Linked DNA regions of Homo sapiens. The protein of the gene in region 2 interacts with the protein of the main gene of each other region in a pairwise test. Each region holds a gene or a part of one and is shown on either strand. Other genes may lie near its edges.

Region 1 (3,866 bases), on a different chromosome or scaffold from region 2:
TTATTGATTACTTACTGTTGTTAGATACAGTATTTAGTGATTTTTTTACTGTCTTTAATCTTCACAACAACTCTATAAAATAAGCACTATTATCTCTCTAGATAATGAGGAAACTGAGGCCTAGAAAGTTCAGGTAGTTCATCAAGTCACACAACCTGCTTTCAAACCCAGTTCTGTCTACGCACAGATTTCTTATATTGCCTCTTCTCTTTGCTATATTGCCTCTTCTCTTTGCTATATTGCCTCTTCCATGAGGAAAAGGGATGGAGTGCTGCTCTTCCCTACCCATCCCTTTTAATGCCATTAAGACTCTTCCTGGTGGTTTCCAAGGCTTATTTTGGGTGACAGTTGTTGAACTGAAGTATCATGTAGTAATAGAGACTTTGGCCTCCTGCCCAGTCAGCCTCTGGCTTCAGAGGAGGAAAACTTTAGTTTCTCCACACAGAACCACGCCCCTTTCACCTTAAATGGCAGCTTGTGTGCCCTGGCTGCCAGAGCAGTTGTCCCAAGGGAACTGGTTCTGGGGCCCTGGTTGTGGAATCACTGAGGCCTTTGAAGGACTGCCCAGAGGGCATGCCCTCCTTGAATAAATGTTTGTTGAGTTGAATTTGAAGTCTTGTGTTCACACATTGTTACTCCCCTCCTGCCTGAATGTTCACATTTCCTTTAGTATTTCATAGACATTGATGGAAGCAGAAACCAAAACTCTTCCCCTGGAGAATGCATCCATCCTTTCAGAGGGCTCTCTGCAGGAAGGACACCGATTATGGATTGGCAACCTGGACCCCAAAATTACCGAGTAAGTCTAAGTTACCTTAGTTTTTTACCTACAATATTGGGATGTTTTGTGGTGATGATGTCAAGAAGAATTTTCAAGGGGTGTGGGATATACTTAGACCCTTTTACTTACATCGTGTCTTCGGAGAGATAAGATGTTGTTAGCCTGTTATCTTGTCACTTTTTTTACATTTGGACTCTGCTACTGCAAGGACACAGACTTGGGTATCCTTTAATCCATATACCTGTTTTTTTCCTATCTGCCAAAGACGTTCTCCCATTTCCAACTATTTGAATCCTTGTACCTAGTAGCTCTAGGGAATTATTCTCTAGAATCAGCCTTGGGAATACATTTGTACCCAGAATAAAGGAACAAGCAGAAGTCTCAGTACCTTTGCAAACAGGCAGAGGAGACCACTTGACTGTAATTCATATTAAGCAGCCATAGAACTATAGAAGGTCAGAGTTGTAAGGAACCTTAGAAATCATGTCCCTTTGGTTTTCATTCATTCATTAAATGATTTGAGTGCCAAGTGCCATGCTAAGCAGTTTGCAGACTTCTTAAATCTGAAGAACCCTGTCTTAGAGTAAAAGTAATAATCAGAGCTGTATATAAAATAAGAGCTCAGAGTTGCTCTGACTAAAAGGGAGAAGAGATGGAACCAAAATCTTTTGTCAACTACTACCCTTTCTTTGGCCATCCCTGTTTAGGCTCTGTAGAACTTCCAGGGCTCCATAGAGCACACTTGACAACCTCTGATGGGACCCAGCTTTTTTATCCTACATAGAGGAAACCAAGTCCCGAAAGACAGAAGTACCTTGCCCGAGTTCACGAAATTGATTGAATTGCCCTGACTCCCTGCTCTTTTACATCACAGCCATTAAGATGAAAAGGAATTTCTTAGCTGAGAAAATTGAGAGGTTTTTCCCTTCTGCCAGTTATTTGATAGAGGGAGGGTGGTGGTTGGTGGCAGAGTACAATGAGTGGATTGGCCTGTATGAGGTCAATGCTGAAAGCCAGTTTTTTTGTTTGTTTGTTTGTTTTTGTTTTTGTTTTTAAGACAGTCTTGCTCTGTTGCCCAGGCTGGAGTGTAGTTGCACAATCTTGGCTCACTGCAACCTCCACCTCCTGGGCTTAAGCAATTCTCATGCCTCAGCCTCCCGAGTAGTTGGGACTACAGGCATGCGCCACCATGCTGGCTGATTTTTGTGTTTTTAGTAGAAATGGGGTTTCACCATGTTGACCAGGCTGATCTCGAACTCCTTACCTCAAATGATCCACCCACCTTGGCCTCCCAAAGTGCTGGGATTACAGACTTAAGCCGCCATGCCAGGCAGAAAGCAAGTTTTGAGCATATCATCAGTCCTAGAAGTTACTCCCTTTAGAATAGTGTTAAAGACAAGGGGAGGCCGGGCACAGTGGCTCACGCCTATAATCCCAGCACTTTGGGAGGACGAGGCAGGCGAATCACTTGAGGTCAGGAGTTTGAGACCAGCCTGGCCAACATGGTGAAACCCCGTCTCTACTAAAAATGAAAAAATTAGCCAGGCATGGTGGTGCATGCCTGTAGTCCCAGCTACTTGGGAGGTTGAGGCGCGAAAATTGCTTGAACCTGGGAGGCGGAGGTTGCAGTGCACGGAGATTGTGCCACTGCACTCCAGCCTGGGCGAAAGGTGAAGGGAGGAGATGAGGAAACCTGCTTCTTTGAGTATGAGATGAGACAAGGTATATATGAGAGTTAAGATTAGGAAAGAGAAGAAAAGGATATAACCTTATAAATCAGGATTATAACAAAAAGTTCCTTAAACCTGCTCAAGCTCATATCAGCCAAATGTAAATATATTCAGTTCCCTTAGAAATTATGACGGTATTTAAGATGTGTTGCCCACATATTATGTTATCTTGGTCACAGGGACCCTAGAGTGGATTGCATTTATTTCAGTTCTCTTTTACGGTTCATGGCTTTTGAGGGTGAGTATATGAATCTGTCCAACCTCTCAATTAATGTCTCTTCATCAAAGAAATTTTTTCCATCATCCAAAACCCAGGCTATGAGGGGATGCTCATAGTGGTTTCCATTCCCACCTCTGCCTGTCTAAATGGAAATCTAAAGTGTGGAAACAGCGTTGGTTGTGTTGGCTGCACTTCTCTGTAATGAGACTTTTGTTCTAATTGTGTCCTGCTGCTTGACGGGAAGGTTCAAATGGGCATTTGCCACCTCAGTTTATGTCATAAGTTGGAGTGTGTGGATGTTTTTTTCAATTAGAACATTGGCAGGAACATTGAATCAGAACTTTCCCACTGATATCTCTGCTCTTTTTACATCAGGCCAGAGGTAGACATCAAGTAATAAACTAGATCAGAGCATGCTGGCTGGAAGTGCTGGGCTTTCCCTGTGGCTGGCTTCTCCACTTCTGTATCACAAAAGACCATTTTTATTATTTTTTCCTATAGATTCTTTTTTCTTCTTCTTCTTTTTTTTTTTTTTTTTTGACAGCTCTGTCACCCAGGCTTGAGTACAGTGGCACAATCATAGCTCATGGCAACCTAGAACTCCTGGGTAGCTGGGACTACAGGTGCTCGCCACCATGCCTGGCTAGTTTGTTGTTTTTTGTTTTTGTTTTGTAGAGACAGGGGTCTCAGTATGTTTCCTAGGCTGTTGTCAAACTCCTGGGCTTAAGCAATCCTCCTGATCAGCCTCCCAAAGTGTTGGGATTACAGGCGTGAGCCACTATGCCTGGCCATCCTATGGATTCTTTACCTTAAAACATTTTATCTGTCAAACAGACTGGTTTATTAAATTGTAATAAATTTATGCTTAAAGATATAACTACCACTGAGCACGGTGGTTCACACCTGTAATCCCAGCACTTTGGGAGGCCGAGGCGGGTGAATCACAAGGTTAGGAAATCGAGACCATCCTAGCCAATGTGGTGAAACCCCATTTCTACTAAAAATACAAAAATTATCCAGGCGTGGTGGCGGTTGCCTGTAGTCCTAACTACTCAGGAGGCTGAGGCAGGAGAATCACTTGAACCCGGAGGGCAGAGGTTGCAGTGAGCCGAGATCACACCACTGCACTCCAGCC
Region 2 (3,866 bases):
CCTCCTGGCATGCTTTCCCCTGACTTTGCGCTTCTCTGCACTCCTGGCTTGCTCCTCTGTTTCACCCGCTGGCTTGCTCCTTCTCTGCATCTCCCTCCCCTCTTATTCTCCTACCCCACAGCTCACTGTCTGCAGGCTGCCGAGGAGGCTGCTTCACCTACACCATGTCTCGAATCAACTTGCGGATCCGGGAGCAGCTTTTCTCCTCCCTGCTGCGCCAGGACCTCGGTTTCTTCCAGGAGACTAAGACAGGTGGGGCCTGGAGTCCAGGTCTGAGATTCCCATGGACATCCCTTGCCCCTCAGTGACCTTCCACCCACAGCCTCTCCTCCTGCCTTCACCCGTATGCCAGGACTTGGGGATGCTTTTCTCTTGTTTGGGACAGGGTGGAGAAGCAGCCTCCACTGTCCCTCTGCAAGTGAAGGAGGATGTTCAGAGGAGGGGGCTGTGTCAGAGGGAACGGTCAGGAGGGAGTTTCTGGGGGCCCTGCAGTACACATGGTTTCCTTTTTCCTCACCTGCTCTGTCCTTCTTAGGGGAGCTGAACTCACGGCTGAGCTCGGATACCACCCTGATGAGTAACTGGCTTCCTTTAAATGCCAATGTGCTCTTGCGAAGCCTGGTGAAAGTGGTGGGGCTGTATGGCTTCATGCTCAGCATATCGCCTCGACTCACCCTCCTTTCTCTGCTGCACATGCCCTTCACAATAGCAGCGGAGAAGGTGTACAACACCCGCCATCAGGTGAGCGTGCATGTAAGGGAACCCCAAAGGGAGAATAAAACTGACAGGTGAGGAGGCTTCCACATTTGTGGCTAGAGGATCCCCTAGAGAGAGATGTTCTCTTCTCAGCCATTAGGGGAGAAGGTATATTGTAGTATATACTACATTTTGTTTGTCCAGCCATCCAACAATGGATATTTGACTTCAGAAGATTCATGATTCTCCAGAACTGTAAACAAAAATGTAAAGTGTATGTGAAGGTATGGGGGAGGGAATAGGAAGGGGAGATGATAGGCGATGATAACTTTTCATTAGCTTCTCAAAGGAGTCTGTACATCCCCCGCCCCCACTGCGAAGATTAAAAATGGTTTCTTAGAGGCTTTTAGGCAGGGAGATTTTCCCTTTAAAATCAGCAGAAGAAGTCTGGATGCAGCATAGGGAAAGGAGGCGTCATCAGGAAGTCCTAAGTCTGAATGTCAGCTCCACCTTCTCTTTTTCTCTTATATTGTGGTAAAACATACATAACATAAAATTTACCATTTCAACCATTTGAAGTGTACAGTTCAGTGACATTTAGGAAACCCACATTGTTATTGGGTAACCATCATCACCATCCATCTCCAGAACTTTTTTCATCTTCCTAAAATGAAACTCTGTACCCACTAAATAGTAACTGCCTACTACCCCCAACCCCTGGCCGCTGGCAACCTCCATTGTACCTTCTGTCTCCATGAATTGTGATGACTCCCGGTGCGGTACGTAAGTGGAACCATACAGTATTTGTCTTTTTGTGACTGGCATATTTTACTTAGCGTAATGTCTTCAGGCCTCATCCATATTGTAGCATGTGTTAGAATTTCCTCCCTTTTAAGGCTGAATAATATTCTGTTGTGTGCATATATCACATTTTGATTATCCATTCATCTGTCAATGGACATTTGCGTTGTTTCCACCTTTTGGCTGTTGTGAATTATGCTGCTGTGGACATGAGTGTACACCTGTTTGAAACCCTGCTTTTGGTTCTTTTGGGTATATACTTAGAAGTGGAGCTGCTGGATCATATGGCAATTCTATTTAACAATTTTTGAGGAACCATGTATTAGTCCATTTTTACGCTGCTGATAAAGACATACCCAAGATTGGGCAATTTACAAAAGAAAGAGGTTTATTGGACTTACAGTTCCATGTGGCTGGGAAGACCTCAAATCATGGCGGAAGGTGAAAGACACATTTCACATGGCAGCAGACAAGAGAAAAGACAGCTTGTGCAGGGGAATTCCCCTTTTTAAAACCATTATATCTCGTGAGACTTATTCAATATCACAAGAACAGCATGGGAAAGACTTGCCCTCATGATTCAATTACCTCCTACCCAGTCCCTCCCACAACACATGGGAATTCAAGATCAGATATGGGTAGGGACACAGCCAGATCGTATCAAACCACCATACAGTTTTCCATAGCGGCAGCACCATTTTAAATTCCCACCAGCAGTGCATAAGGTTTCCAATTTCTCCACATCCTCATCAACACCACTTTCTGTTGTCTTTTTTTTTAATAGCCATTCTAATGGTGATTAGGTGATTAGGATTATCTCATTGTGGTTTTGATTTGCATTTCCCTAATGATTAGTAAATATTGAGCATCTTTTCGTGTGATTTTGGCCACTTATGTTTCTTTCTTGAAAGAATGTCTGCAAGTTCTTTGCCCATTTTCTGATTTTTTTTTAAGTTGTGGGAGTTCACTATATGTTTTGCCTATTAATTTCCTATCAGATATATGATTCACAAATATTTTCTTGTATTTCATGGTTGCTTTTTCACTCTGTTGCTAGAGTTCTTTGATGCACAAACGTTTTAAATTCTGATGAAGTCTGATTTATCTATTTTTTGTTGCCTGTGCGTTTGGTGTTATATCCAAGAAATCACTGCCAAATCTAGTGGCATGAGGCTTTTCTTCTACATTTTCCTAGGAGTTTTATAGTGTTAGCTCTTATGTTTAGGCCTCTGATCCATTTGGAATTACATCTCCACCTTTCTTAACTATCTGTGGCTCCTTGGGAAAACTACCCTTCTTTCCTGATTCAGACACTGGGGATGGGAAAATTACCTCAAATGAAGGTTAAAAAAATTGCATGTATCTCCTATACTACCTAACACTGAGAGCTCAATAATATTTTGTTCCCTTGCTCCTTCACTCTTATTCCTTCTGGAAAGAAGAGTAAGGAAGAGGGAGAGAAACAGTTTGGTATTTTTAGGTAGACTAGGGAGCATCTCACTGGCTGGAGTAAGATGTGGGGGCCTGCTGTCTTTGCACATCAGCCCTGGTGTTTGCTGGCCCTCTTTTCCAGGAAGTGCTTCGGGAGATCCAGGATGCAGTGGCCAGGGCGGGGCAGGTGGTGCGGGAAGCCGTTGGAGGGCTGCAGACCGTTCGCAGTTTTGGGGCCGAGGAGCATGAAGTCTGTCGCTATAAAGAGGCCCTTGAACAATGTCGGCAGCTGTATTGGCGGAGAGACCTGGAACGCGCCTTGTACCTGCTCGTAAGGAGGGTAAGATACCAGAGTGGTTGTGAAAGGAGCCCAGGAAAGGGGGAGGGCAAGGGAAGAGGAAACTACAGCTGGTTCTAGAGGCCTTTGCAGCTCAGTCTCATAGAGGCAGAGAGGGGGAAAGAATGGGAAGATTCCCAGCCTCATCTCTTTCTTCTCCTCTTCCAGGTGCTGCACTTGGGGGTGCAGATGCTGATGCTGAGCTGTGGGCTGCAGCAGATGCAGGATGGGGAGCTCACCCAGGGCAGCCTGCTTTCCTTTATGATCTACCAGGAGAGCGTGGGGAGCTATGTGCAGGTGAGCGAGAAGCCAAGCCTGCTCTCCTTTTTTCCCTCTCTTTTTCTTTGTGGACTCCTGGGCCTTGGGCTTTATTTGTTCTTTTTAACAATACAATACAAAACCAAAACCCGCAAGTAATTTTGCTATGGAGAATTTTAAACATATGCCAAAAATGAGACAAAATAATATTACAAACTCACATGTATACATCCTGTGCTTTAACAATGATCAACTCATGCCCAATCTTGTTGGATCTGTATCCCCAGCCACTTCCCCCCACCCATATTATTCTGAAGCAAATCCAAGATATTGTATACTTTCA

Evidence for each region. Proteins that work in one complex are often made in the same cells at the same time.
Region 1: the proteins of TAP2 (region 2) and RBM18 interact in a two-hybrid assay, tested with the Homo sapiens proteins (one large-scale study listed by BioGRID and IntAct).

Annotation. Positions count from the first base shown.
Region 1 is NC_000009.12:122,258,313-122,262,178, reverse strand, and holds part of RBM18 (probable RNA-binding protein 18), read left to right. Parts: intron 1-670; 5' UTR 671-686; coding exon 687-799; intron 800-3,866.
Region 2 is NC_000006.12:32,832,029-32,835,894, reverse strand, and holds part of TAP2 (antigen peptide transporter 2), read left to right. Parts: intron 1-121; coding exon 122-252; intron 253-535; coding exon 536-741; intron 742-3,070; coding exon 3,071-3,268; intron 3,269-3,433; coding exon 3,434-3,562; intron 3,563-3,866. UniProt on the Homo sapiens protein: ABC transporter associated with antigen processing. In complex with TAP1 mediates unidirectional translocation of peptide antigens from cytosol to endoplasmic reticulum (ER) for loading onto MHC class I (MHCI) molecules.